Linked DNA regions of Homo sapiens. The protein of the gene in region 2 interacts with the protein of the main gene of each other region in a biochemical or structural test. Each region holds a gene or a part of one and is shown on either strand. Other genes may lie near its edges.

Evidence for each region.
Region 1: of the proteins of DRD4 (region 2) and KLHL12, one has a biochemical effect on the other in vitro, tested with the Homo sapiens proteins (2 studies listed by BioGRID, with this or other methods).

What each region holds. Positions count from the first base shown.
Region 1 is NC_000001.11:202,890,620-202,905,065, forward strand, and holds the end of KLHL12 (kelch-like protein 12), read right to left. Parts: intron 6,342-14,446; coding exon 6,235-6,341; intron 5,099-6,234; coding exon 4,903-5,098; intron 4,131-4,902; coding exon 3,972-4,130; intron 3,664-3,971; coding exon 3,565-3,663; intron 2,807-3,564; coding exon 2,620-2,806; intron 2,041-2,619; coding exon 1,914-2,040; 3' UTR 501-1,913; downstream 1-500. UniProt on the Homo sapiens protein: Substrate-specific adapter of a BCR (BTB-CUL3-RBX1) E3 ubiquitin ligase complex that acts as a negative regulator of Wnt signaling pathway and ER-Golgi transport.
Region 2 is NC_000011.10:624,174-640,606, forward strand, and holds the start of DRD4 (D(4) dopamine receptor), read left to right. Parts: upstream 1-13,095; 5' UTR 13,096-13,131; coding exon 13,132-13,416; intron 13,417-15,259; coding exon 15,260-15,372; intron 15,373-15,474; coding exon 15,475-16,133; intron 16,134-16,227; coding exon 16,228-16,430; 3' UTR 16,431-16,433. Other genes in the region: CDHR5 (cadherin-related family member 5 isoform 1 precursor), read right to left, coding at 40-90, 384-559, 645-729; SCT (secretin preproprotein), read right to left, coding at 2,258-2,357, 2,524-2,616, 2,715-2,816, 2,900-2,970. UniProt on the Homo sapiens protein: Dopamine receptor responsible for neuronal signaling in the mesolimbic system of the brain, an area of the brain that regulates emotion and complex behavior.

The DNA.
Region 1 (14,446 bases), on a different chromosome or scaffold from region 2:
CTTTGGTTTAATTAGCATGCACAATCCATCTGCCAAAGTTGGTAGGCATCTTTTAAGGAAAATAACTTCCTCATGTGGCTCCTCCTTCCTTTTGCTCTGGAAGCATCAGGACTGTTTCAGTTTTGCAGGCCTTCCGCATAGCTGTTTATATCACATGCCACAATTCAAAGCAAATGGAAAAAAGGACTGGTGTGACTGAAACCCTGAAATTCAAGCGCGTGCTAAGTGAATTCAAGATCTTTTCTGTATTCCTTTTTCAAGTAACTCCAAGCGTCAGAGGGGCTAATGAATATGGCAAATCAGGTAAATATTTTACTGATGAGAATCTCCAAAGTGTAAAGTGGCTACCTCTTACCTGTGTCTAACATAGAAATAGCGGAACTAGTTGGCAAACACACAAGATGAACAGCTTGAAGAGACAGGAGCTACGGCTGATCCCTACATCTTTCCCTCCCAAATATCTACTAAAGGCAATGTTGGTTAGCCACAAACTCTCGGCATTTGAGACCGTTGATTTTTAATATTTTCTTAAAAAAATACAAAGGAAATTAACTCTGTAGGTCAATACAACTCAGGGAAAGAGGGAAAAATGGAATTTCAGAGCAAAGGTTGTTTAGGTTATCACATTCCCACACTCCTAATACCCACAAAACAAGAATTTCACTCCATGACACAGAGGAACATTGAATGGTAGCTCAGAAATGTTGATAGCTGAGGTACTGAAACTAACAAAAGGATTTTGGTTGTCCTTGATTATTCTGTCCTGTGATGAATAAAATCTACACTAAAGGACAGGTAAGGAAAACTTATAGCAGAAAAAAGACTAGATGTACCAAACACAGCAGTACAAACCACTCCTTGGCAGACATGTGCTTCTAAAAGAATGGGGCAGTAATCAGGTAGCTGAACTACTAGGCTACTGTCACTCCCAGCCCATCCCCAAATAAATAGTGTGGAAGTGTAATAGTGTAGTAGTATTTGATCCAACAAAGAAAGGCTTTCACCCCCATTCAAGGCAAACATTGCCATGGCTAGATGAGCCCTGGCAGGTAATAAGATGACTGTAAAATCACAGGTTCTTCTAGTTTATCCCCAGTTATACTGAACTCCCACATTGATGTCATCTTCTCTCATCCCAACATTTGTTCACTCTTTTATGCTGTCTCCAGTGCGAAAGACCTCGGGGAAATAAAAAGATCCTTCAAATAATATACCCTTCTCAGTCTTCCAGGTTATGTAATACTTCAGTGCTGTTCTAGGTTCACTCACAATCAAATTCAGTTTAATTCACTTAATTCTAACTTCAATTCTGATATACAAATCCTGACCTCCAAAAGAAGTGTCAGATGAGTCTCTCTCTCCCTTGTCCCCAAAGTTTTGTGGGGCTCTCCCTTTTGTTTCCCTCTAGAATGGAACTGTGTTGCCCCTAGCTACCTGTATATGAGAAAATGTAGTTGTTCCTGGAAAAAAAAAAAAAGACTTGGATTTTACCAAGTTTACTTAAACTGGTATCTTTCCAATCATCTAGGCTGGATATTGCCCATATCTAGTAGGCTATACTCACCTTAGTTCTTTGCAACATATGAGGCACAACATACATATAGTACACCAAGCATGTGGTAAGTTAGAAATGACAGGAAAGTGCTCCCCAAAGCAGTGGGAGAGGCAATGTGGTCTCTCACATCCATTCAATGTGCATTCTTTTTCCTGGAATATCTGTTACCCACCCTTCTCAGGAACAAGAACCAGGACGACGGGGAGTATGTGTCAAATAAGTACAATCATCACTGCACTGGTGCCTGTAATCACCCGGTGCACATAGTGAGAAACAGACATTCTGGAAAGGATTTTTGATTCTCCCACTAACTGTCCACTGGACTGGTCACTAGCTCTGGATGGTGCTCCAACAATGGTCACTTCTCGCGGAGAACACAAACACCAGCATCACAGCGCTGGGTTCCCATGGATGTCACGACTTCCCAGCTGTCGATGATAGGGTCATAACATTCAATGCTACTTAGCAGGGAATTACCATCATATCTGAGTGGGAAAGAAGCAAAAGAAAGAAATGAGTCAGCTGCGTGCAGTGGCACGTGCCTGTAATCCCAACTATGCAGGAGGCTGAGGTAAGAGGATTGCTTAAGCCCAGGAGGGAATTTGAGACCAGCCTGGGCAACATGGTGAGACCCTGTCTCAATAAAATTTAAAGAAAGAAAGAAAGAAATTAGCCTTCTATTCCTTTCCACACAAGTCCTTCATTAAGGCTGCCACTGGAGGCCAGGCATGGTGACTCTCACCTGTAATCCTAGCACTTTGGGAGACTGAGGTGGAAGGATTGCTTGAGCCCAGGAGTTGGAGACCAGCCTAGGCAACATAAAAAACTAGTCTGGCACAGTGGCGTGCACCTGTGGTCCCAGCTACTCTACTCAGACTCCAGCCTGGGTGACAGAGCAATACTCTGTCTCTAAAAAATAAAAAAAATCTAATAAAAAAAATCAAGTTGCCACTGGAGATGTCTACCCCTACCCAAGTCTTGTCTCTGTCCAAAAATGAGGATCAGATCACATAGACTCTTGCTCTGGCTACATATTGAGTCTGGATTCGTTTCTAAATCCTCACCCTGCAATTGCATAGAGTCTCCCCCGAAGCACTGTGGCCCCTACATAGCATCGTGGAGTGGTCATACTGGTGACAGTTGTCCAGGAATCAGTGCGAATGTTGTATGCTTCAACGGAAGAAAGGTGGGCTGTACCATCAAATCCCCCCACCACATAAATATGGTCATTCAGCAGGGCTACTCCTGCACCTGGGGAAAATGAATGCATTAGCAAATGTATGGTACTAAGCCTAGAATCTGAATTATAGAAATAAACTACGGTCACTAATGACTAGCTGAGTTCTACAGTAGATGAGGGATATGGAATGGGCCCACACGGGCCTAGAATAATCTAGTCCAGCACAAGTTATTCCATCTATAAACCCTTTGGCTTGGACTTGAAATGATAAAAGATAAATAATAAAAATGGTTCTCTTCTTTACTTTCATTAACTCAGAGCCCAACCCTTCTAATTAGGAGAAAGGGAGGAAGTGAAAAAAAGGTGGCAATAAAGGTAGATGGAGGGAAAGGAGTTGTGATTATGGTTCTGAAGCAATTTTTACCCAGAGTAAGTAAACTAGAACAGCACAGTGCTCTCTCCTTTTCTATATCCCAGCCTGCTCCACTTCAAAAAGCTCTTGGTGAAGGTAAGTAGCTACTCTTTTGTCCTTATGCATTAGAGACTTTATTTAACAGATATTTATTAAGCATGTACTACACAGGCAAAATTGTACTAGATATTCTAAAACGTAGGGAGAGAACAAAGACATGAAGGCTTTTGCTTTCAAATTTATAATCTAGTTGTAAGTATCAACTGTCTTTATCCTAGTATTTAGAGAAAACAGAGACAAGGAGGAGAGCAGAATCTCATTTTTACATTAATCTACGGTTTGTCCCATGCACCACCATTATATATGTAAAGGTCTGACAGCATCGCCTATTGTCCCCTCCCTCAGATCTGGTCTTACCAGAACGCTTGGTGGCCATTGGTGTAACATTAGTCCAATGTCCTGTATGAGGGTCGTATTTCTCAACTGAATTTAAGATATTCAAGCCGTCATATCCTCCTGGAAGACAGAGACCATTCCAGAAAGAGTGGTAAATCCTCATGCCCATTCCTGGTCGGTTTTTTTCTGAGTGCTTCAACTAATTATTTTAGTTTCAATTTTCCCACAAGAGTTCCAATAACTCTAAGAGAAATCTGACATTATGCTTATAAGAAAAAGATAATCCCAATTAATGGAAAATATATTAAGACACACCAGGGTTTTAGTTGAAGGGAAGTCTATGAACGTCATTTTGGTAAAAAGGAATCCTTACCCACAGCCCATTACCCATTGAGTTCCCTCCCATTCCTGCATCCCAGACTCAATACCTAGACAGTAGATCACTCCACTGGCCACTACGAGTCCGGCACCTTCCCGGGCTGTCTGCATATCTCCCAGCATGCTCCACTGGTCAATGTTTGGATCATAGCGCTCCATACTGGTGTGACGCCTGCTTCCATCAAAGCCTCCAGAGACATAGATCATATCTGCTCAGAATAAACAAATTACAGACTATTAGAGAATGAGAGATTTCTAAGAACTCTTTCCTCTACAAATTTTCCAAGGGTCCTTTAAAAGTCTGAGAGCAAAAACAAAGTATTTTTAAATGAGATAAGTCAATTAAGTTTTATAGACAAGGAAGACATCTAAAAAGAATGGGGTAAAACAAAATCCTTAAAAGCATTCAAAGACCACCTAGGAGTTTGCAAAAACACAACTAGTGCCAGTTCCCCACCCAGCACATTGGAACTTGATTTGCCAACTTTGTAGTCAATAATGAAACATCCATGAATATTGAACAGCTTCTATTACACTGATATTTCTGAAAGCAAAAAGGAGTATTTGTCGGCTGGGCACAGTGGCTCACACCTGTAATCCCAGCACCTTGGGAGGCCGAGGTGGGTCAATCACTTGAGCTCAGGAGTTAGAGATCAGCCTGGGCAACATGGCGAAACCCCATCTCTACTAAAAATACAAAAATATAGCTGGGCATGGTGGTGCATGCCTGTAGTCCCAGCTACTCAGGAAGCTGAGGTGGGAGGATCGCTTGAGCTTGGGGAGGTTGAGGCTGCAGTGAGCCGTGATCACACCACTGCACTCCAGCCTGGGCAACAGAGAGAGACCCTGTCTCAAATAATAATAACATTTGACCTTAATTTTTTCTCCGTATTTCATGCTCCTGCCAGACAACAGGAGAGGTTAAAAACCCTGGTCCAGCCACAGTAAGATGGAAATAATTGCCCTGCACATCCAGCCTACCTCCCAGGGTGGTGGCTCCAGCAAGACCTCGTCGGACATTCATAGGGGCCACAGAATACCAGACCCCATCCTCATCTGCTGTGTAGTCTAGACATTCCACTGAACTAAGGCGGGAACGGCCATCATAGCCACCAATGACGTAGATCCGGTCATGAAGGGACACTGAGGCCACATAACGTCTCTTACGAGTGATGCTCTATGGATTTGGAGAGAAGAGGTACAGAGCATTTCAGTTAGGCAAGTTTTGGGCCTTACCTTTTGCTATCTTCCCTGTTGTATCTGCACACCTCTCTGCTTCTTCACCTGTCATCATGAACCCTCCTTAAGTGGTTCATCCTCAAGTGGCTCCCAAATAGCTACCTACTGAACGAAATGCCTGTTGTGGTGCTCTTAAAGATACAAGCTTTCTGCATCTCTGCCTCTTTCCAAGGCTTCCAAAAGATTTAACAGCTTTCTGTTATCCAATATCTGACTCCTTTCTCTTCCATAAGGCACTGGGCTAAGAGACTGATATCCTTCCATAAAGTAGAAAAGTATTCCCACATTGCTAATCAAAGGATGAGGATTTATTATAAGAACCTTAAAAGGTAGGAGGGTTGGATTTCCATGTTTTCTCAGAAATTACTATTGTTCATTCAGCACTGAGAGACATGCTGAGGGAGACAGATACAAACTTTTTTTTTCTGAGTTGGGATCTCACTATCACCCAGGCTGGAGTGCAGTGGCACAATCACAGTTCACTGCAACCTCGAACTCCTGGGCTCAAGCAATCTTCTGCCACAGCCTCCCAAGTAGCTAGGACTACAGGCATGCACCACCATGCCTGGCTAATTTTTTTGTTTACTTTTTTGTAGAGACAGAGTCTCACCATATTGCCCAGGCTGGTCTTGAACTCCTGGCCTCAAGAGATCCTCCCATCTCAGCCTCCCAAAGGGCTGGGATTATAGGTGTGAGCTACCACGCCCAGCCCAAACTTCTGAGCTCAACTGAACACTGGGTTCAATTCAACACAATTTAACATTCAGTTCAGTTTAACACAGCACGACCAATGAAATGTGCTAGGAATTATACAGACAGCTTAGAAAGGCACCTAACTAGTGGTGGCCATCTGAGTTTACCTTGACACAGGGCCACTGACATTTCTAAGGCATAATCTTCTAATCTAAACAGTCAAAAACTGTTAAGTAAGTACCTACTATATGCACAAGACTGTTGTAAGAAACATCCTGTTATTAGGCTTTTCTACTCTTAAGGCTGGATTAGCTATGATCTGGAGGCAGAGACTGAGGACATTTAACATCCCTCCCAACGAATGGTTTCACCATTATTTACTGGCAAAAAGCTCCACTCCTGAGTCTTGGGGTCATATTTCTCTACCACATCAATGGGAGACTGCTGGCTTCCAAAGCCCCCAACCACCAAAAGCACTTCATTGGCTCCTGAAGACAAAGGCAGAAAAAAGATGGGTTAGTTCAGCATCCCTGGATGGGTAACTAGTCACAGGGAAGTGTCAACAGAAACAGTTCTAGGATGTCTTGTTTTATGTGGCTGAGGGATGCAATCCGAAATGGGAGATAATCATAAGGCTGTCGAATGGGGAGTTATTTTTCCTTGAGGCTGTAGCTCTCGAGTCTCTGAAACTTAAATTTCTGGACATTAAAACTCTAGAAAGCAAACTTCAACATGACACTGCACCATTTCTTTTTCTTTTTTTTTTTTTTTTTTTTTTTGGAGACAGAGTTTCGCTCTTGTTGACCAGGCTAGAATGCAATTCCATGATCTCGGCTCACCACAACCTCTGCCTCCTGGGCTCAAGTGATTCTCCTGCCTCAGCCTCCCGAGTAGCTGGGATTACAGGCTGTGCCACCACGCCCAGCTAATTTTGTATTTTTAGTAGAGATGGGGTTGGTCAGGCTGGTCCCGAACTCCCAACCTCAAGTGATCCGCCAGCCTCGACCTCCCAAAGTGCTGGGATTACAGGTGTGAGTCACTGTGCCCGGCAACACTGCACCATTTCAACCTATTGAGATGACTGGCTGACATAATCCTTGAGGTCTTAAGTGCAGGTGAGAGCCTAAAGGCACTCTCTGCACTTAGCCTGAAAAACTCAAATTGGGAGGTTTTTTGTTGTAATGGGGAAAGAACTCTCCTAACCTTGTCACAAAAAAAGCTACATGTTGAAACTTAGGATCCAAGTGATGGATTTAAAATCTCTTTTTCTTTTTCTGAATTGAGAAAGGGTCTCGCTATATTGCCCAGGCTGATCTCAAACTCCTAGCCTAAAGTGATTCTCCTGCCTCAGCCTCCCAAAGTGCTGGGATTACAGGAATGAGTCACTGTGCCTGGCCTAAAATCTCTTTTCCATGAACACTTCCTTCTCCAATTTAGTCAACTATATGATCACATTCCCTGCCAATTCATCAAAACCACCAGGCAACAAAAGACTAGAGTTTTAAAGGAAAAGTCTTTTTCTCTATTTTCCCAAAGAAGCTATTCTGACAGCCTTTATATCTTCCCCTTCCCCTAACGCCTTACTCTGATAAAATATTTCCTACCTTGGCTTTTGGAGACAGGGTCTTGCTATATTGCCCAGGCTGGTCTCAAACTCCCGGCCTCAAGCGATACTCCTGCCTTAGCCTCCCAAGTAGCTGGGATTACAGGAATGAGCCACAGCACCTGCCTTGGCTTTTTTCAAAGAGCAAAGTCTCTTTGAGAAAATCCCCTGTGCATGTGCTCCATTAGAACTCATGGAGAGAATAGTTAGCTGGAGCTTTGGAAAATTCAATCACTAGGAAGCATCTAGGAGACCAAAGTGATCTTATGAGTAACCTGGACTTGAAAGAGCAAATGTAGTACCTTGAAGCTGACAGGAAACACAGATAAACCCCTAATGAAGTAATGGATTTGACAATTATCATCAATTGCTGGGCTAGAATCATTATTTCAAAAGCCAATATATTACTATGAGACATTGAGTGCTTCCTAATGGTGATGAATAGGAAGGACCACACTACCACCTCGTCTTTTTTCCAAAAAACTGAGCCTGACTCTTAACAAGCCTCTAATCCAACCACTAGTTTACAGGCAATACATGGGAGAAGAACATGTTAAATGACACTACAAAGATGCAACAGCAGAGTCTAGAATGTGGGAAATTCTACAGGTCGAACAGCTTGGCTTCTTCAAGAAATAAACTGGCTGGGAAAAACCAAAACAGGATGGAAACTTTTGGATTAAAACGAGACTGAAAAGAGACATGAAATCACGAGCAACGTGTGGACTTTGTCTGGATTCTGATTTGAACAACATAAGTACTCAAAAACAAACAACAAAAAATTATGGAAAAAAAATTACACAAACACGTGAGAATAAGGAATTGTGTGATTTTAAACAGTGATAATGGCATTCTAGATGTGGCAGAATTTTTTTTCCTTATCTTTTAGAGACACACGTGGAAGTATGACACATAGGCATGGAATAATATCCAGTCTGGAATTTGCTTCAAAATAGCCTGGGTGCAGTGGCTCATGCCTGTAATCCCAACACTTTGGGAGGCCAAGGCTGGCAGATCACTTGAGGTAAGGAGTTTGAGACCAGCCTAGCCAACAAGGCAAAACCCCGTCTCTACTAAAAATACAAAAATTAGCTGAGTGTGGTGGCGCACACCTGAAATCCCAACTACTCGGGTGGCTCAGGCATGAGAATGCTTAAACCCAGGAAGTGGAGGTTGTAGTGAGCTGAGATAGCGCCACTACACTCCAGCCTGGGCAATAAGGCAAAACTCCATCTCAAAGAAAAAGCTATGTGTTGATAATTGTTAAAATTGAGTGATGGGTATGGGGGATCATTATATTACTATTTTTATGTTTGAGATTTTTCTTAATAAAACATATACACTCACACATAAACCACGGAGTTTTTCTAAGAGGGCACTTGTCTTATGTACTTGCCAAATAAAGTGGACCCTCTCCAAAGTGAGCCAGCAAGTAGGTCTCAGGAGTCAGCTCCTTCGAAAATCAAAGCATGGCCAGGTGTGGCTCATGCCTGTAATCCTAGCACTTTGGGAGGCCAAAGCAGGTAAATTGTCTGAGGTCAGGAATTCAAGACCAGCCTGTCTAACATGGCAAAACCCCGTCTCTACTAAAAATACAAAAATTAGCCGGGTGCAGTGATGCGCACCTGTAGTCTCAGCTACTTGGGAGGCTGAGGCGGGAGAATCACTTGAACTGAGGAAGAGGTTGCAGTGAGCCGAGATTGCACCACTGCACTCCAGACTAGGCAACAGAGTAAGACTCCATCTCAAAAAAAAAAAAAAAAAATAATAATAATAAATAAAAAAATCAAAGCATAAGAATGAAGGGTTCTTTAGTGATTGAAGTAATTTTATGTCTGCCTAAAATTACTTCAAGTTGGGAGAAGCTAGGACCACAAGTTATTTGTTTCTTCTTTGGGAACACTATTTCCCTACCTATTCCTTTTTCTTACTCCACCTCTTTTCTTCCTGACTTGAATAGACAAGGTAAGTGTGATCCTTCTATCCAAACACATTTCCCATGTAGATGAATATGCCAGCAGATGATGTATGTATGAATAAAAATTCCCACACCAACCAAGAGGTACTTCCTGTGCTATGCAAATTTTAAAGTTTTCTATTGATTTTTCAGCTCTTATTTCTGTTGCTTTATATAACTCCCTGCCCCACCCCCCAACCCCCCAAAAATAAATATATATATCTAAAGAAGTCAGGCACAGTGGCTCATGACTATAATCCTAGCACTTTGGGAGGCCAAAGTGGGCAGATTCCTTGCGCCCAGGGGTTCGAGGCCACTTTGGGTAACATGGTGAGACTCCCATATCTAGAAAAAAATAATAAAAAAAAATAGCCAGGTGTGATGGCAAATGCCTGTAGTCCCAGCTACTCCTGAGGCTGACATGGGAGGATCACTTAAGTCCAGGAGGTTAAGGCTGCAGTGAACAAGGTCGTGTTCCTGCACTCCAGCCTGGGGAACAGAGTGAGAACTTGTCTCAAAAAATAAAATAAAGTAACATAAAATAAAGAAGGCTGGGCGTGGTGGCTCACGCCTGTAATCACAGCACTTTGGGAGGCCGAGGCGGGTGGATCACTTGAGGTCAGGAGTTCAAGGCCAGCCTGGCCAACATGGTGAAACCCCATCTCTACTAATAATACAAAAATTAGCCAGGTGTGGTGGTACACACCTGTAGTCCCAGCTACTTGGGAGGGTGAGGCACGAGAATCGCTTGAACCTGGGAGATGCAGGTTGCAGTGAGCAGAGATCGCACCACTGCACTCCAGCCTAGGTGACAGAGCAAGACTCTGTCTCAAAAAAATTAAACACAAATACAAACACAAAAATTAGCCAGGTGTGGTGGTGTGCATTTTGTAGTCCCAGCTACTCCGGAGGCTGAGGCAGGAGAATCACTTGAACCTGGGAGGCGGAGGTTGCAGTGAGCCGAGATCATGCCGCTACACTCCAGCCTGGGTGACAAAGCAAGACTGTCTCAAAAATAAAATAAAGAAAAAACCCCTCTCTTTCTTGATATGATTTCATTCAGGCACCTTTTGAAGGGTGGGAGAAAAGAAGTAGAAAGGAAATAGATTATATTAAAAACACAGATAACTGACAGTACTTCCTGTTGGCTGAAATTTTCCCAATAAACACTCTGGTAACTATATGTCTACAGTGGAACTTCGTAAGAGGTGTTGGTGTGATGTATAAAGGAGTTTGTTTTGTTCTGTTTAAAAGACAAGGCCTTCCTCTGTCACCTAGGCTGGAGTGCAGTGGCACAATCTCAGCTCACCACAGCATCGACCTCCCAGGCTCAAGCAATCCTCCTACCTCCCAGGCTCAAGCAATCCTCCTACCTCAGCCTCCTGAGCAGCTGGGAGCACAGTGTGTGCCACCAAACCCAGCTACCTTTTTTTTTTTTTTTTAATTTTTTAAAGAGAGGAGGTCTCACTATGTTGCTCAGGCTGGTCTCTAACTCCTGAACTCAAGCGATGCTTCTGCTTCGGCCTCCCAAAGTGCTGGGATTACAGACATGAGCCACTGTACCAGCCACTCAGGGGTTTTATGGCTCTAAATGGCTGGGATCCTTCGATCACTGATTCCCAAACTTCTTTGCTGTGAAGGACTCTCTTCATTATTTTTCCCGACAGATCCTGTGTTTTGACAGACTGTCTACCAAAGTGAGTTTAAGTAATTAACTTCCCCGCAACTGCCAACAGAGCTTTTGATAACTATGAGAGCAACAGTGTTTCACACTGAATGGATATAATTTTAGTTAAATCTGAAGTCTTTATTTAGCCTGTTCAGCTTTTTCTAGCACAAAAATGATTTTCTTTTAGAAAATTTAAAAATAACTCAAGGACTAGTATAATCACCATCCCCACTCACGTATTACCCCTCCCTGTTGAAAAGAATTGAAAAGTATTTTCCTTGTGATTATAAAACATATAATATACATTTTTACTGCTAAAAAACTTGGAAAATACAGACAGGTATTATGAAAAAAAAATTACCCATAGTTCCACAATACAAAGACACACCAAAATGTAACATAATTTCCTTCCAGCCTTGTTTCTGCACATTTATAAAACACAAATGGGGGCCGGGCACAGTGGCTAGCGCCTGTAATCCCAGCACTTTGGGAGGCTGAGATGAGTGGATCACGAGGTCAGGAGTTCGAGACCAGCCTGGCCAACATGGTGAAACCCCATCTCTAGTGAAAATACAAAAATCAGCCAGACATGGTAGCACATGCCTGTAATCTCAGCTACTCGGGAGGCTGAGGCAGGAGAATCGCTTGAACTTGGGAAGTGGAGACTGCAGTGAGCCGAGATCACACCATTGCCCTCCAGCCTGGGTAACAGAGCGAGACTCCGTCCAAAAAAAAAAACACCAAAAACAAACAAACAAAAAAACCTACAAATGTGACCATATTATATTGTATCCTGATGTTTTTCATTTTCCAAATATATGAATAACTCTTTTAGTACATGGTTATAATATTCTTAGGCATTTCAGGGTTTATAATTTTGGGTTATAAACAATCACATAAATAACCCTGTGATAAATATCCTGAATATGAAACTTTTCCTGGTTGTTTTCTTAAAGAAATGGGAAGAATGCTGAGTAATGAACCTGAATTAGAAAAAAATTTTTTGAGCCAGGCATGGTGGCTCACACCTGTAACCCTAGCACTTTGGGAGGCCAAAGCAGGCAGATCACATGAACCCAGGAGATCAAGACCAGCCTGAGCAGCATGGCAAAACCCTGTCTCTACTAAAAATACAAAAAATTAGCCAGGTCTGGTGGTGCACACCTGTAGTCCCAAGTCCCAGCTACCTGGGAGGCTGAGGTGGGAGGATCACTTGAGTCCAGGAAGTGGACGCTGCAGTGAGCCAAAATCATGCCATTGCACTATAGTGACACAGTGAGACCTTGTATCAAAACAAACAAACAAATGAAATAGATCACCATGGTGGCATACGCCTGTAGTCCCAGCTACTGAGGAGGCTGAGGTGGGAGGATTGCTTGAGCCCAGAAAGTGAAGTTTCAGTGAACCAAGATCATGCCACTGCACTCTAGCCTAGGAGCCAGAGTGAGACCTTGTCTCAAAAAAAAAAAAAAAAAAAAAAAAAATTACTTTGAGACATAAGGTGACTTTTTGAAGCTGTTACCAATTACACTCCCACCAACACTATAAAGGTGCCAACTCATTCTACTTTCTGAGGCACTGGATAGTTTTTAAATCTCTGACACTCTGGTAGGCAAAAAATTATGTTTAATTCTTTATAACTAATAAGACCCTATTATTAATTAGGTTGAACTCCCTCCCTTGTATCTAGTAGCCAGCTTTACTTGCCCTTCTGCGAACTGTACACTCAAATCTTTATTGTTTCTCTCATGCATTCTTGTTTTTTTTTTCTTTTTTGAGACAAGGTCTTGCTCTGCTGCCCAGGCTAGAGTGCACTGGTGCAATTATGGTTCACTGCAGCCTCAGCCTCGACCTCCTGGGCTCAAGCATCCTCCTAGCCTCCCACTTCAGCTTCCCTAGTAGCTGGGACCACTAATTTTTTTCTTTTCTTTTTTTTTTTGAAACGGCGTCTTGCTCTGTGGCCCAGGCTGGAGTGCAGTGGTGTGATCTTGGCTCACTGCAACCTCTGCCTCCTGGGCTAAAATGATTCTCCTGCCTCAACCTCCCCAATAGCTGGGATTACAGGCATGCGTCACCATGCCTGGCTAATTTTTATACTTTTAGTAGAGACAGGGTTTCATCCTGTTGGCCAGGCTGGTCTCGAATTCCTGGGCTCCATCGCCTGCCTCAGCCTCTCAAAGTGCTGGGATTACAGGTGTGAGCCACTGCTCTTGGCCCTGTCTCATGCATTCTTATGAGCTCTTTACACACAAATGGTTTTAACCCTTTAACCCTTTATCTATCTATCTATGTATCTATCTATCTATCTATCTATTTATCTATCTATCTATCTATGAGATGGAGTTTTGCTCTTGTTGCCCAGGCTGGAGTGCAATGGCACGATCTTGGTTCACCACAATCTCCACCTCCCAGGTTCAAGCAATTTCCCGAGTAGCTGGGATTACAGGCATGTGCCACCAAGCCCGGCTAATTTTGTATTTTTAGTAGAGACAGGATTTCTCCATGTTGGTCAGGCTGGTCTCAAACTCCCGATCTCAGGTGATCCACCTGCCTCAGCCTCCCAAAGCGCTGGGATTACAGGCGTAAGGCACCCTGCCAGGCCAACCCTTTAACCCTTTAAAGGGTTGTTCCAAACCTATGTTCCTAATTTATCATAATTTTGTATATGATTTTTTTATTTATTCAAATATGTTTTTATTCTTTGTCATTTCTTCCACTATTTTGTGCCTAGAAAGTCCTTCTTCCCCAGAAGAACTCCTAAGGTTTTAATGTTTTAACCCTAAGTTGGAGACCAATACTCAAACAATCTGACTCGTGTAAAAAAAAGCTAGTGAAAGAGTCAACCTGAAAGAAGCCTGTTTGTTCTCTGCCAATGATGGAGTACTTGTTAAGTGAGATTTTTATCTTTTTAATGAGAAAAGCTTGTCTAGGACATCTTACAAGAACAGTGTGAAAAAGCACATTTCTAAAACTGAAGAACCTGGCAGTGGCATGGTCATTATTTTTAGAAAGAGGGGAAGGGGAGTGTGTGTGTGCTGTGACACGTTGTTAGAGAAATAAGGCAGATGCAGGACTGCTAAAATAACAGGGTTCAGAGACTCACATTTCCATTTGCACTGATCTTTAGTTCAAAAAAGGAGACAGCCACAAATTAGAAAAGTAATTTCCATTATATCTTCTTTGAGACAGTAATGGGTAAGGTTAATAACTAAAAATCCCTTATTTGGCAGGCTATTTTAACTTGGCTGTCAATTTAATTTCCTTCTGCTGTATGCAGAAGAGTCATTATCCTGGTAGCTGGTTTAGCAGCCAATATGCATAGAGATGGGTAGAGGACATGATGGTAAGAACAATCTACCTGCTA
Region 2 (16,433 bases):
GTGGCCGGGTGGGGCGGGGAGAGCGGGGCGGGGACTCACCAATGTGCCTCCGCTCTGACACAGCAGCTGAGCCTCAAGCAGTGACTTCTCCTGTGGATGTAGACAGGTCTGCAGTCACCGTCCTGCCCCACAGGTGGGGAGACTGAGGCCAAGTGGGCAGGCGCTGGCCCAGGGTCCCCATCATCAGTGGTCAGTGCTGAGGGTGTGGGCCCAGGCAGCTTCATCCCGAAATGGCCCAGCCTTCTAGGGCAGGCACCACCAAGCATGGGTGTCAGTGGATGCCCGCAGGCATAGAACTCCTAGGCCCCCAAGGGAGGTGTGGCCTGAGGATGCAGGTGCCCTTCTCCCGGGACCCCCATATCCCGCCCGCCTGCCGCCCACACCTCGTAATCAGGAGTCACGTTGAGAAACAGCTGGTTTCCCTGGATCCGAAATGCAAAGGGGGTGGACAAGGCTCCGAGGGTCACCTCCTGGCCCTCCGGGACGTGGATGTCCACCAGCGGCTCGGTGACATTTGTGTTCTCCTCTACTTCAAAGATGTCCTTGTTCACAGAGCAGTCTGTAAGGTTGCAGAGGAGGGATCAGTGCCTCCCAGCCCCTGGCTCCCCGCCGCCCGTGCCCCACCTACCCCTGCCCGCACATACACTGGGCCTGGGCCATGGTCCCCGGGGGTCGGACGAGCAGCCCGGTGAACAGCAGGGGAGGCCACAGCAGGGCCCAAGACCCCATCTTGGCGGCTGTCACCTGGCAGGAGGGTCTGAGCGGGTCTGGCGTCTAGGACTGGCGCAGTTCCTACCTCAGCGACCTTCGCCCCAGCCAGACGCCGCCCAGTTTATGATCCTTTACGACCGGCTTCTGCCAAGGGGGCTCCCGCTGGCCGGCTGGTCCAGCCCACTGCCAGAAGGAGGGGCAGTCGTTTGGCCCAAGTTGGACTGAGTGCAGGGGTCAACCAGGGGGCTCAGGTCACAGGCACCGAGGCACAGGGCAGAAGGGACTGGAGAGCGGCTCATGGGTGCCGTGGGGGTAGGGGCAGGGCAGGGGCAGGGCTAGGGTGTGGGAGAGAAGCTGGGGGCTGGGGGCGGGGGCTCGGCCCTTGGTGTCGGGGTGTCTGGAACCTGCCTCCCTAGCCCAGGCTGCCCTGGCTTGGCTCCTCCCCTAAGATCTCCCTCAGGCAAAGTTCCTAAGGCCACCCCTTGAGGCTCAGAACCCGGGTGTTCCCCAGGGAGCACCTCCCTCCCTGCCTGACAGCAGGTTCTGAAGGAAAAGGCTCTCCTCACTGTGTCCTGGGGACACCCCTGCCTGCCCCAGAGACAAGTCGGCTTCTCAGGGCGGGGCTGGACAGGGCCTTAGTGACTGAGGCTAAGGCGGGGCTGTGAGGGGCAGCTGGGAGTTCCTGGGGGGCCCTGGTGCCCGACAGAGGGGGTGAGGTGAGACTCGACACTTGCCCTGCTCTTTTCATTGGCCCCCCAGAAGCCCCCAGCTCTAGGGAGAGGCCACTGGGTAGGGTCGGGGCGAGGAAGTGGCTGTCGTGAGGGGTAGGTGGAGTTCTCCTCCTCCAGGCCTGTGCGCCGAAGCTTCTGGCCTCTCATGGCTGGGGCTGGGCTCAGTGTCCTAACCCTGCACGGTGCCCTCATGGTCGCCTTCAAGCCCTGCACGCTCCGTGCTCCACAGGCTCTGAGGGGTCAAGCCACTGGTCCGAGGCCACACGAGACAGAGGGTCCGGAGTCCTCACGCCAGAGTGGATTCCTGGCACCCCAGGTGACACCTCCACCCTCCCCTCTTCCTGCCCGCCTGAGCCCCCCTGGCCCCTTCACACCCTCCCCACTACCCCTTACAGAAACACTGACCACATGGGCCCCCGGGCAGGAGCTGAGAGGGTGTCCGGGATCCCCCGAGCCCCAGAATGTTTCCTAATGGATGACAAGGGGTGGGGCGGGGCCCTGCAGTACTTAGTCGAGGTACAGGAGGTGGCCCTGATGCCAGAGATAAGGATGAGGGGCCGCCGTGCCTGCAGGTGTAAAGGGCAGCTGGGTGTGGTCAGTCCCTCCTGGGTGGATGGGCCTCCATCCATCCCTCAGCCCCGCTACACAGGGGTTGCCTCGATTACACTGAGTGGACACAGACAACTCCCAGCGTCTGGGTCTGATTCCTCCTTTATTGGTGCCAAGTACCACCCCTCCCCCTCTCCCCCATCCTGCCCCCCACCCCAAATGCAGCTGCGCTCCTGGGCCGGGCAGGTGGTGAGGGGGTTCCTTCCTCATCTGGGCCGCAAGGTTCCTTCTGCAGCAGCGCCAGCTGGTTCTGAAACCATAGGCCCAGGGGGCAGCCAGGGAGACCAGGTCCCGTCCAGGGGCATCCTGCAGAGACAGCACGTGAGGGTCTGAGGGCTGGGGCTGGAGACCCCGGCCCCGCTGCTGGAATTGGGCCTCCAGTGGCCACCAGCGCTGACCCGGGGAGGCCAGGACAGAAGGAGGGGTCTGGGGTGGGGTCTGGAGTGGGGTCTGCGGTGGGGCGGGTGCTCACCAGGCCTGCAGGATGGGCATGTTGGACCCTGACGGGCAGAGCAGACCCGCGCTGAGCCTGGTCCAGGCCATGCTGTTCTCTGCGTCCTGCTCGCTGCCCCCCGCCCCAAAACAGAGTTAGTCCTGGAGCTGGGGGGTCGCGCGTTGCTGCTGGGGCACCACGCCAGGACCCCCCACCCCACCCGGCCTCACCTGCGCTTCCCCACCAGGCCCTGTAGCAGCCGCTGGAGCCGCGCGCCCTCCCGCAGGCGGCTGAGCTCGCTGGTGAACGTCCCGTCTGAGTGTCGCCGGGCCCTGCGGGCGGTCGGGGGTCGGGGTCAGGGCGCACTGGGGGCGGGTGGGGCCCGGGGGGCGGGCGGGCCTGGCGGGCGGCTCACCTGGGGGGCGCGGGGCGCGCGGCGGAGCCCCCGAGGAGCAGCAGCAGCAGCAGGAGGGGCCGGGGGGCCATGGCGGGGTCGGGGCGCAGGAGCTGAGCGCTGCGGCCACGGCCCCGGGCCCCCGCAAGGCCCCTTTATGGCGGCGCCCGGAAAGGGGACGGCCCGGCCGCGCCCAGCGATCCCGGGAAGGTCAGGGCCGCCCCCCCAGCTGTCGCCCCGGCCCGGCCTCCCGCCCCCTCCGCCGCGCTGGCGCCCCTCGGCCGGCTGGGGGAGGGGGACGTCCCGGCCTGGGGGGCGAACGGAGCGCGGGCCTGGGACCCGCAGAGGGAACCGCACCGCGAAGCCTCGGAGCCTGCGGGGGCGGAGGGGCCGGAGGGCTTGGGGGAGGGTTTGGGGGGGGACTGGGGGGCCCCGGGGAAGGGGCTGCGGCCGGAGTTCCGGAGGCCCCTGGAGCACCTTGCTGGGGCGAGTTCGTCTCCAGCTTCAGCGTGGCGTGACTGTTGGGGGGCCGGTGTTGCCATTTTATCTGCTTTGAAGTGCGCGATTCAGGATCATTCGGTGCATCCATCCCCACCATCCGTTCTCAGACTTTCCCGTCCTCCCAAAATCCGTTCACAGACGCTCCCGTCCTCCCAAAATCCGTTCACAGACGCTCCCGTCCTCCCAAAATCCGTTCACAGACGCTCCCGTCCTCCCAAAATCGTTCACAGACGCTCCCGTCCTCCCAAAATCGTTCACAGACGCTCCCGTCCTCCCAAAATCGTTCACAGACGCTCCCGTCCTCCCAAAATCCGTTCTCAGACTCTTCCGTCCTCCAAAAATCCATTCTCAGACTCTTCCGTCCTCCCAAAATCCGTTCTCAGACTCTCCCGTCCTCTCAAAATCTGTTCACAGACGCTCCCGTCCTCCCAAAATCCGTTCACAGACGCTCCCGTCCTCCCAAAATCCGTTCACAGACGCTCCCGTCCTCCCAAAATCCGTTCTCAGACTCTCCTGTCCTCCCAGAATGAAGCTCTGTCCCCATCAAACGCCCCCTCCCCTCCTCAGCCCCGGCGCCCCGTCCACTTTCTGTCTGTGGATTCAGCGCTTCCAGGGACTGCGCGCAGGGGGAGCCTCACGGGATTTGTCCTTTGGAGACCGGCTGGATTCTCAGCGCAGCATCCTCCGCCTTCGCCGCCGCGGCCTGGCCTGTGTGGGAATCTCCTTCCCTTTTGTGGGGAACTGTGTCCCGCTGTGTGCAGGGACCGCATCGACCGCGTCCGCTCATCTGTGGGCATCTTGATGGACACCTGGGCTGCCTCCCCTTTGGGGCGACGGCGAGTAACGCTGCTGTGAACGTGGGTGTGCAAACGGCGCTTCCCGATCCCGTTTTCAAGCGTTCTTGGTGTATAGTTATGAGGGAATTGCTGGGTGACAGAGTAATTATGTGTTAAATATTCTGAGGAAACGCCAAACTGTCTTCCCAGCAGCGCAGCAGGGACACGGTTCTTGTCCTCGCCAACACTTGCTACTTTGTGGCTTTTTGTTTGTCGCGTACTAACGATGCCGGTGGGTGCGACGTGGTGTCTCGCTGCGGTTTTGATTGGCATCTCCCTAATGGCCAGCGATGTGGAGCATGTTCTCAAGTGTCTGTGAGCCATTTATACATCATGGAGTGGACGGAGAAATGGCCGTCAAGCCCTTTGATGTTCTGCTGTGGTTGCGAGTCATGCACTGTATCCGTCTGTTAAATCAGCCACAATATTTTCCCCAGCGTTTGCATCATTTCACAGCCCCGCCAGCAATGTGGGGCTGGCTGGCTGGCTGGCTTGCTGGCTTGCTTGCTTTTCTTTCTTTCTTTCTTTCTTTCTTTCTTTCTTTCTTTCTTTCTTTCTTTCTTTCTTTTTCTTTCTTTCTTTCTTTCTTTCTTTTTTTCTTTTTCTTCCTTTCTTCCTTTCTTCTTCCTTTCTTCCTTTCTTTCCTTCCTTTCTTTCTTTTTCAGAGGGAGTCTCGTTCTGTCACCCAGGCTGGAGTGCCGTGGGGCCATCTCAGCTCACTGCAACCTCCGCCTCCCGGTTTCAAGCAGTTCTTGTGCCTCGGCCCTCCAAGTAGCTGGGATTACAGGTGCCTGCCACTATGACTGGCTAATTTTTATATTTTTAGTAGAGACAGGGTTTCACCATGTTGCCCAGGCTGGTCTGAAACTCCTGACCTCAAGTGATCCACCTGCCTCGGCCTTCCAAAGCACTGGGATTACAGGCGTGAGCCACAGCGCCCGGCCTCACTTTCTCTGCACACTGTCAACATCCCTGCAGTCGCTATTTTTAACCTTCAGCCATTCTCTCTGCGGCAACACCTCCTTGTGGTCTTAGTTGCATTTCCCCAGTGGCGGGTGATTCCGAACCTCTTTCCAGGTGCTTGTTTCCATTTGCATGTTGTCGTGGGTTAAATGTATCTTCACATCTCTTGCCCGTTTTTAAATTGTTCTCTACTGCTGAGTTTTGTTTTTTTTTTTATTGTGGGAAAACATGCATAACATGAAACTTACCATTTTAGCCATTTTAAAGTATGAAGTGATACTTAGTACGGTCACGGAATTATACAACCAGCACCGCTGTTTAGTTCCAGAACTTTTTACTCCCCAGATGGAAAATCTCAAATCCATAAAGCATTTACCTCCCCTTCCCCCATCCCTTCAGCTCCTGAGTAACAATGAATTTACTTTCTGTCTCTGTGGATCTGCCTGTTCTGGGTATTTCATACCAATAAAATCCTAAAAGCTGGGCATGGTGGTACATGCCTGTGGTCTCGGCTACTTGAGACGGTGAGGCAGGAGGATGGTTTGAGGCCAGGAGTTCGAGACCAGCCTGGGAAACATAGCAAGACCCTGGTCACTATTTTTATTTATTTATTTATTTTTATTTATTTGTTTTGAGATGGAGTTTCACTCTTGTTGCCCAGACTGGAGTGCAATGGCGCGATCTTGGCCCACTGCAACTTCCGCCTTCTGGGTTCAAGCAATTCTCCTGCCTCAGCCTCTGGAGTTGCTGGGATTACAGCACCACCATGCCCAGCTAATTGTGTACTTTTCATGGAGGCAGGGTTTTGCCATATTGGTCAGGCTGGTCTTGAACTCCTGACCTCAGGTGATCCGCCCGCCTCAGCCTCCCAAAGTGCTGGGATTACACGCAGGAGCCACCGCGCCTGGCCCCAGAATTTCATTCATTTTAATGGAAAAATCACACTGCATTTGGTTCATCCATTCACCTGCTGAGGACGTTTGGTTTATTTCTACCTTGTATATATTGTGTTTGTTTGTCTGCTTGAGACAGAATCTCGTTCTGTTGCCCAGGCTGGAGTGCAGTATATGATCTCCGCTCACTGCAACCTCCGCCTACCAGGTTTAAGTGATTCCCCTGCCTCAGCCTCCTAAGTAGTGGGACTACAGGCATGCACCACCACACCCCCTAATTTTTGTATTTTTAAAAAATATTTATTTATTTATTTACTTTAGAGACGGACTCTCACTCTGTCACCCAGGCTGGAGTGCACTGACCTGATCTCAGCTCACTGCAACCTCCGCCTCCCGGGTTCAAGCTATTCTCCTGCCTCAGCCTCCCAAGTAGCTGGGATTACAGGCACCTGCCACGCCCGGCTAATTTTTGTATTTTTAGTAGAGACGGGGTTTAACCCTGTTGGCCAGGCTGGTCTCCAACTCCAGGTCTCAGGTGATCCACCCGCCTCGGCCTCCCAAAGTGCTAGGGTTACAGGCATGAGCCACTGTGCCCGGCCAGTACTTTGTGTATTTTCAGTGGAGATGGGGTTTCACCATGTTGGCCAGGCTGGTCTTGAACTTCTGGCCTCAAGCAATCTGCCCACCTCGGTCTCCCAAAGTGCTGAGATTACAGGCGTGAGCCACCATGCCCGGCCCCTTTTGTATATTGTGAATAGTGCCGCTGTGAACATTTACATACAAGCTTTTATTTGAACACCTGTCTTCACTTCTTTTGGGTATGTAACATACCCACTGAGTCATATGGCAACTCTACGTGAAACTTGTTGAGGAACTGCTGGACTTCTTCTCACAGTGACCATTTTATATTCCCAAAAGCAGTGAATGTCTCCTCATCCTTAACACTTGGTATTTTTATTTATTTATTTATTTATTTATTTACTACCATGGCCATCCTAATGGATATGGAATGGTATCTTACTGTGGTTTTGATTTGCATTTCCCCAGTGACTAATGAGGTTGAGCATCTTTTCAAGTGCTTTGTGGCCATTTGTGTGTGACATATGTATATTTTTTGTTTGTTTGTTTGTTTTGGGGACGGAGTCTCGCTCTGTCACCCAGACTGGAGTGCAATGGTGCGATCTCGGCTCATTGCAACCTCCACCTCCCAGGTTCAGGCGATTCTCCTGCCTCAGCCTCCTGAGTAGCTGGGACTACAGGTGCCCGCCACCATGCCTGGCTAATTTTTTTGTATTTTTAGTAAAGACGGGGTTTCACCATGTTAGCCAGGATGGTCTCCATCTCCTGACCTCATGATCCGCCCACCTCGGCCTCCCAAAGTGCTGGGATTACAGATGTGAGGCACCGTGCCCAGCCATATTTTTTTTAAGACAGAGTCTCGCACTGTTGCCCAGGCTGGAGTGCAGTGGCGTGTTCTTGGCTCACTGTAACCTCTGCCTCCCGGGATCAAGCGATTGTCCCACCTCCGCCTCCCAAGTAGCTGGGATTATGGGCGCCCGCCAGCATACCCAGCTAATTTTTGTATTTGTAGTAGAGACGGGGTTTCACCATGTTGGCCAGACTGTTCTCGAACTCCTGACCTCAAGGGATCCGCCTGCCTCGGCCTCCCAAAGTGCTGGGATTACAGGCGTGAGCCACTGAACCCGGCCATTTGGGTATCTTCTTTGAAGAAATGTCTATTCAAGTCCTTTACTCATTTTCATTATTTATTTTATTTTGAGACAGGGTCTCACTTTGTTGCCCAGCTTGGAATATGTTGGCTCAATCACAGCTCACTGCGGCCTCAACCTCCTGGACTCAAAGGATCCTCCCACCTCAGATTCCCAAAAAGCTGTGACTATAGGCTCACGCCACCACACCCAGCTAATGTTTGTATTTTTAGTAGAGATGGGGTGTCTTTCTTTTTTTTTTTTTTTTGAGACAGAGTCTTGGTCTGTTGCCCAGGCTGGAGTGCAGTGGCACGATCTTGGCTCACTGCAAGCCCCGCCTCCCAGGGTCACGCCATTCTCCTGCCTCAGCCTCCTGAGTAGCTGGGACTACAGGTGCCCGCCACCACGCCCGGCTAATTTTTTGTAATTTTAGTAGAGACGGGGTTTCACCATGTTAGCCAGGATGGTCTCGATCTCCTGACCTTGAGATCCGCCCGCCTCAGCCTCCCAAAGTGCTGGGATTACAGGCTTGAGCCACCAAGCCTGGCCTGTTGTGGAGGATCTTCTATACATAAGACCATGTCATCTGCAAGTAGAAATAGTTTTCTTTTCCAATTTTGGATACCTTTAATTTCTTTTTCTTGAGTAATGCTCTTGCTAGAATGTCCAGAACAATGTTGAACAGAAGCAGCAGCAGTGGGCATCCTTGTCTCTTTCAAAGGCTTTTTGTTTCTCACCATTGAGTATGATGTTAGCTGTGTTTGTATTTTGTTTGTTTGTTTGAGACAGTCCCCCTCTGTCATTCAGGGTGGAGTGCAGTGGTGCGATCTCGTCTCACTGCAGCCTCCACCTCCTGGATTCACGTAATTCTCGTGTCTCAGCCTCCTGAGTAGCTGGGACTGTAGGCGTGCGCCACCATGCCCAGCTAATTTTAATTTTTGTATTTTTAGTGGAGATGGGATTTCAACATGTTGGGCATCTGGTCTTGAACTCCTGATCTCAAGTGATCCACCCGCCTCGGCCTTCCGAAGTGCTGGGATTACAGGCATGAGTCACGGCGCCCGGCCTGATGAAGTTTGTTTCTATTCCTAGTTTATTGAGTCTTATTATCATGAAAGGGTTTTGAATTTTATGAAATGGTTTTTTCTGCATCAGTTGGGATGATCGCGTGGGTTTTTCTTCATTCTGTTAATGTGGTGTATGACATTGAATTTCGTCTGTTCGTTCACCCTTGCATTCCTGGGATAAATCCCACTGGGTTATGGTACATAATCCTTTTAAAAATGCTGTTTTTCGGCCAGGCACTGGCTCACGCCTGTAACCCCAGCACTTTGGGAGGCCAAAGTGGGCGGATCATGAGGTCAGGAGTTTGAGACCAGTCTGGCCAACAGAGTGAAACCCTGTCTCTACTAAAAATACCAAAATTAGCTGGGCATGGTGGCACGTGCCTGTAGTCCCAGCTGTTCAGGAGGCTGAGGCAGGAGAATAGCGTGAACCCGGGAGGCAGAGGTTGTGGTGAGCCGAGATCACACCACTGCACTCCAGCCTGGGTGACAGAGTGAGACTCCATCTCAAAAAAAAAAAAAAAATGCTGCTTTTCTGGCAGGCAGCACTTTAAAAGGGACTGTGTTTGCTCATATTTTTTCGAGAACTTTTGCATCTATATTCATAAAGGATACTCATTTGGAATTTTCTTTTTGTGATATCATTACTGTTGAGTTTTGAGAATTATTAATCTTTTTTGTATACAAGCCATTTGCTGGATATATGATTGCTAATTTTTAAAAAAAATTTGTTTCTTTTTTAATTTTAATTTATTATTTATTTATTTATTTATTTATTTATTTATTTATTTTGAGACGGAGTCTCGCTCTGTCGCCCACGCTGGAGTGCAGTGGTGCGATCTTGGCTCACTGCAAGCTCTGCCTCCCGGGTTCACGCCATTCCCTTGCCTCAGCCTCCCGAGTAGCTGGGACTACAGGTGCCCGCCACCACGCCTGGCTAATTTTTTGTATTTTTAGTAGAGACAGGGTTTCACTGTGTTAGCCAGGATGGTCTCGATTTCCTGACTTCGTGATCTGCCTGCCTCGGCCTCCCAAAGTGCTGGGATTACAGGCATGAGCCACCTCGCCCAGCCTATTTATTTATTTTTTGACACAGAGTCTTGCTCTGTTTCCCAGGCCAGAGTGCAATGACGTGATCTCCGCTCACCGCAACCTCTGCCTCCTGGGTTCAAGTGATTCTCCTTCCTCAGCCTGCCAAGCAGCTGGGATTACAGGTGCACACCACCACGCCCGGCTTTTTTTTTTTGAGACGGAGTCTTGCTCTGTCACCCAGGCTGGAGCGCAGTGGCACAATCTTGGCTCACTGCAATCTCCGCCTCCCGGGTTCATGCCATTCTCCTGCCTCAGCCTCCTCAGTAGCTGGGATTACAGGTGCCCGCCACCACGCCCGGCTGATTTTTTTGTATTTTTTAGTAGAGACAGGGTTTCACCGTGTTAGCCAGGATGGTCTCGATCTCCTGACCCTGTGATCTGCCTGCCTCGGCCTCCCAAAGTGCTGGGATTACAGGCGTGAGTCACCACGCCTGGCCAATTATTTGTATTTTTAGTAGAGATGGGGTTTCACTATGTTGGCCAGGCTGGTCTTGAACTCCTGACCTGGTGATCCACCTGCCTCGGCCTCCCAACGTGCTGGGATTACAGGTGTGAGCCACTGCGCCTGGCGTAGACAACCCAATTTTTAACAAAAGCAAAGATTTTTAACAGGCACATTCCAGAAGAGGGCATGCTGACAGTTAACAGGCACATGGGAAAAGTGGTCAAACATGAGTAGCCATCAGGAAAATCAACGACGTCCTACTACACTAAAATGGAAGAAACATTGCCAGACGTGGCCATTTGCAAATGTCGTTTCCTGGTCTGTGTCTTTTGATTCTCCTGACAGCATATTTGAGTTAATTTTTTAATGTGTAAGGTATGAGTGGAGGTCCTCATTAAAAATTGTTTAGGCTGGCTGTATGGCTCATGCCTGTAATCACAGCACTTTGAGAGGCTGAAGTGGGAGGATCATTTGAGCCCAGGAGTTTGAGACCGGCTGGGCTAACATGGCGAGACCCCGTCTCTACAAAAAATAAGAAAATTAGCTGGGTGTGGCACCACGCATCTGTAGTCTCAGTTGTACAGGAGGCTGAGGCCAGAGGATCACTTGAGCCCAGGAGATTGAGGCTGCAGTGAGCCATGATTGCAGTAAGATGTGATCACATCCAGTTACATTTGATTTTCAGATAAACAACAGAAGTTTAGTGGAGGCTGGGGGCAGTGGCTCACAGCTGTAATCCCAGCACTTTAGGAAGCTGAGGCAGGTGGATCACCTGAGGTCAGGAGTTCGAGACCAGCCTGGCCAATATGATGAAACCGTGTCTCTACTAAAAATACAAAAAAATTAGCCGGGCGTGGTGGCGGGCGCCTATAATCCCAGCTACTCAGAAGGCTGAGGCAGGAGAATCGCTTGAACCCGGGAGACGGAGGTTGCAGTGAGCCAAGATTGTGCTGCTGCACTCCAGCCTGGGTGATAAGAGTGAAACTCCATCTCAAAAAAAAAAAAAAAAAAAAAACAAATTGGGGTTGTCTGTCTTTTCTCATTGTTTCCATTGTTTCTGGATCTGTGTGTCAGAGATGTGTGCTGCACACATCCTTTCTCCGCCTAGCTTGGTTTTCACTCTTGGTGGTCGCAGACATCTTGGGGGCTACTTGAAGGAACTCTAAGCCGACCAGAGGCTGGGCTGGACTCGCCGTTTGGCGCCCAGCCGGAGACCCCAGGGCCACCCTCCCCGGTTCCATCCTGGGAGAGAAGAAACTTCCACTGTCCCAGTCTCTCCTGTGGTGACTTCTTTTGCTCAAGGGTTCACAAGGGCAGCAGACTGATCTGCACAAGAGGGACTGAGCCTGGCTGCGGCCGCACCTGATGCCTGTGCACACCTGTCCCTGGTGGTCTCTCCTGTGGTGACTTCTTTTGCTCAAGGGTTCACAAGGGCAGCAGACTGATCTGCACAAGAGGGACTGAGCCTGGCTGCGGCCGCACCTGATGCCTGTGCACACCTGTCCCTGGTGCAGGCCCTTCCCCCGCAGCCCCGTGACCTTGTCCTGTGAGGCTCACGGTGCCTGCTCCTTCTCAGAGTCCTCATTTCTCCCTTTAACGCACGCCCTGTCAGCGCCTCCGTCTAGCCCGTGTCCTCCAGACCTTCGAGGTCAGGGGCCTCAATTCCTGGCACAGCCCCTCCACTCCAGGCCTCCCAGAAACAGACTAGAGCATCAGGATGTGCGCCGCCTGGGGTCCCACAGAGTGGTGCCCCCTTTTAGTGTCTTCTAGGCCCCTTAGTGACAGACTACAGAAAATACCTCTCAGGTCACAGGTCACCCCTCTTTGGTGAAGAGTCCATAGAATTCTCTGCTGCGCTTTGCAAGCACTTTCTCTTCTGCACGTTTGGAACCTACCCCGGCCTGTCGTGTCTTTCTCCTGGCCTCCTCGCGAGCCGAACCTACTGTCCGGTCCCGGGACCCCCTGCCCAGGGTCAGAGGGGCGCCTACCTAGCTCACGGTCTTGGGCCGGAGGGAATGGAGGAGGGAGCGGGGTCGACCGCTCAGCTGTCCGCCCAGTTTCGGAGGCGGCCACGCGAGGATCAACTGTGCAACGGGTGGGGCCGCGGCTGACCGTGGTGGTCGCGGGGGCTGAGGGCCAGAGGCTGCGGGGGGGGGGCGGCGGGATGAGCTAGGCGTCGGCGGTTGAGTCGGGCGCGGAGTCGGGGGCAGGGGGAGCGGGCGTGGAGGGTGCGCACGAGGTCGAGGCGAGTCCGCGGGGGAGGCGGGCAGAGCCTGAGCTCAGGTCTTTCTGCGTCTGGCGGAACGGGCCTGGGAGGGAGGTTTTGCCAGATACCAGGTGGACTAGGGTGAGCGCCCGAGGGCCGGGACGCACGCACGGGCCGGGTAGGATGGCGCTGGCGTCGATGCCCGCGCGCTTCAGGGCCTGGTCTGGCCGCCCCTCCATCCTTGTCGGTTTCTCGGGTCGCGGACCCCGCGCGGCGCCGGGCGATGCTGGCCTGCCCGTGGCCACCACCTCGCTTCATTCCCGTCTCTTTGGGCCGCCGCATTCGTCCACGTGCCCGTCTCTCCCTGCGCAAAATTCCAAGATGAGCAAATACTGGGCTCACGGTGGAGCGCCGCGGGGGCCCCCCTGAGCCGGGGCGGGTCGGGGGCGGGACCAGGGTCCGGCCGGGGCGTGCCCGAGGGGAGGGACTCCCCGGCTTGCGACCCGGCGTTGTCCGCGGTGCTCAGCGCCCGCCCGGGCGCGCCATGGGGAACCGCAGCACCGCGGACGCGGACGGGCTGCTGGCTGGGCGCGGGCCGGCCGCGGGGGCATCTGCGGGGGCATCTGCGGGGCTGGCTGGGCAGGGCGCGGCGGCGCTGGTGGGGGGCGTGCTGCTCATCGGCGCGGTGCTCGCGGGGAACTCGCTCGTGTGCGTGAGCGTGGCCACCGAGCGCGCCCTGCAGACGCCCACCAACTCCTTCATCGTGAGCCTGGCGGCCGCCGACCTCCTCCTCGCTCTCCTGGTGCTGCCGCTCTTCGTCTACTCCGAGGTGAGCCGCGTCCGGCCGCACGAGCATCCTCACCTGCTCCTCGGTTCCCCGTCCCTGTCCCTACGGAGGACCCGGCGCGACCCGGCCCCTTTCTGGTGCGGAGCTTCCAGCTGGGGCGGCGGCAGGGGCGCTGCGCCTTGTCCCTCGGCGATACACCCACCGCCGCCACCTCGCGACCTTCCACCCGCTGCGCTGTCTGTCCCCCGACCCTCGTTCCTCTTCTCCTTCCCCGTCTGTCTTGGCGTCTGTTATCCAGGAGATGCCCGTCCTTCTATCCAGGGACCCCGGAAACAGGCGACTTTGTCAAGCCCAGTCCCCTCCGTAGCTGGATTTCACCTCCAGGGCAGCCAGCTGGACAGACAGGCAGATGCAGGCTCAGCCCCCTGGCTGCCGTGGGACACACACACACACACACTGCCACAGCCACTGCCCACCACACACACCTAGTGCAGATGCTGGCACACCCCCAGAAGGAGGCTCACAGCTCGCAGGGGAGACCTGGGCTGGACAAAACCCAGGGGAGGGGAGGGTGTGTGGGGACCAGGCCCCTGCTGAGAACCCTGGGGGGAAGCCTGAGGGGGAATTGGGGGATGGAGCCCACACTCCACACCAGGTCTGGCCCTCGAGTGGGTCGGCCTTGGTGCCAGCCCCTCTGCGGCCAGAGAAAAGCAGCTTAGGGCTGAGCTGGAGACGCGGTGTCCCCGACTGTGGGGGAGGGGGACTCGAGGTTTCCCCTTGATGGACACAGTGAATCCAGGCGGCTGGGGCAGAGACCAGCAGCACGGGACACGCGTGACCTGTGCTCCTTTCGAGCCGCAGACGTCACAGTGACGACGTTTAAGCTCCTAATCTCCCCAAATCGGCGGGAAGGATTAGAGGGGCTGCCTGCTCCTTTGCCCTTGGAGAGAGTCACTCCACGTGGAGTCCTACGCTGGGCACTGGGCACGGTCTTCATATTTTTAATTATAATTTATCTTCAAGACAATTATGATGTGGATACTATCATCACCCTTGTCTTACAGATGAAGAAACAGAAATGAATTAACGTGCCCGAGTCTCCCACAGAGAACTTAGCCAACAGAGCAGCCAGCTTCGCTTCTAGGCCCAGCGGGGACCCTGCCTACCCCAGGCTGGGGAGGGGCTCCCTTTGAGCCCGATGATATCAGGCCCGCCCCCAGGGAATTCCCCAGGCCGTTCTCATGTTTGTAACAAAAGGGAGACCAAGGCCAGAAGCCGTGATTCACGCCTGTAATCCCAGGACTTTGGGAGGCAAAGGCAGGAGGATAGTTTGAGACCAGCCTGGGAAACATACCAGGCCTGGTCTCTACAAAAAATTTTAAAATATCAGCCGGGGGTGGTGGCTGCGGCTGTTGTCCCAGCTATTCGGGGGAGCTGAGGCGGCAGAATCGCTTAAACCTGGGAGGCGGAGGTTGCAGTGAGTTGAGATCTCACCACTGCACTCCAGCCTGGGCAACAAGAGCGAAACTCCGTCTCAAAAAACAAAAAGAAAAACAAATCAGCCGGGGGTGGTGGCGCGCGGCTGTAATCCCAGCTACTCTGGAGACTGAGGTGGGAGGATCGCTTGAGCTCAGGAATTCCAGGCTACAGTGAGCCATGATGGAGCCACAGCACTCCAGCCGCGGTGACACAGCGAGACCCTAACTCAAAACAAAGGGAGATCTGCGTGGGGAAGGGGTGTTTCCCTGCCCGGTCCTCTGGCCTCTGGCTCACAGCCGGGCCCCCTTCTCCGTATTCAGCCCTGGAACTACCCATAAGAGTGGGGGCGGGTCACAAGGGCCCGCGGTGGCTGGGAAACCTCAGGGCCTGTGGTGTCGCCGCGCAGGTCCAGGGTGGCGCGTGGCTGCTGAGCCCCCGCCTGTGCGACGCCCTCATGGCCATGGACGTCATGCTGTGCACCGCCTCCATCTTCAACCTGTGCGCCATCAGCGTGGACAGGTGCGCCGCCCTCCCCGCCCGCGCCCCGGCGCCCCCGCGCCCCGCCCGCCGCCCTCACCGCGGCCTGTGCGCTGTCCGGCGCCCCCTCGGCGCTCCCCGCAGGTTCGTGGCCGTGGCCGTGCCGCTGCGCTACAACCGGCAGGGTGGGAGCCGCCGGCAGCTGCTGCTCATCGGCGCCACGTGGCTGCTGTCCGCGGCGGTGGCGGCGCCCGTACTGTGCGGCCTCAACGACGTGCGCGGCCGCGACCCCGCCGTGTGCCGCCTGGAGGACCGCGACTACGTGGTCTACTCGTCCGTGTGCTCCTTCTTCCTACCCTGCCCGCTCATGCTGCTGCTCTACTGGGCCACGTTCCGCGGCCTGCAGCGCTGGGAGGTGGCACGTCGCGCCAAGCTGCACGGCCGCGCGCCCCGCCGACCCAGCGGCCCTGGCCCGCCTTCCCCCACGCCACCCGCGCCCCGCCTCCCCCAGGACCCCTGCGGCCCCGACTGTGCGCCCCCCGCGCCCGGCCTTCCCCGGGGTCCCTGCGGCCCCGACTGTGCGCCCGCCGCGCCCAGCCTCCCCCAGGACCCCTGCGGCCCCGACTGTGCGCCCCCCGCGCCCGGCCTCCCCCCGGACCCCTGCGGCTCCAACTGTGCTCCCCCCGACGCCGTCAGAGCCGCCGCGCTCCCACCCCAGACTCCACCGCAGACCCGCAGGAGGCGGCGTGCCAAGATCACCGGCCGGGAGCGCAAGGCCATGAGGGTCCTGCCGGTGGTGGTCGGTGGGTTCCTGTCCTGAGGGGCGGGGAGGAGAGGAGGGGGGGGGTACGAGGCCGGCTGGGCGGGGGGCGCTAACGCGGCTCTCGGCGCCCCCAGGGGCCTTCCTGCTGTGCTGGACGCCCTTCTTCGTGGTGCACATCACGCAGGCGCTGTGTCCTGCCTGCTCCGTGCCCCCGCGGCTGGTCAGCGCCGTCACCTGGCTGGGCTACGTCAACAGCGCCCTCAACCCCGTCATCTACACTGTCTTCAACGCCGAGTTCCGCAACGTCTTCCGCAAGGCCCTGCGTGCCTGCTGCTGAGCC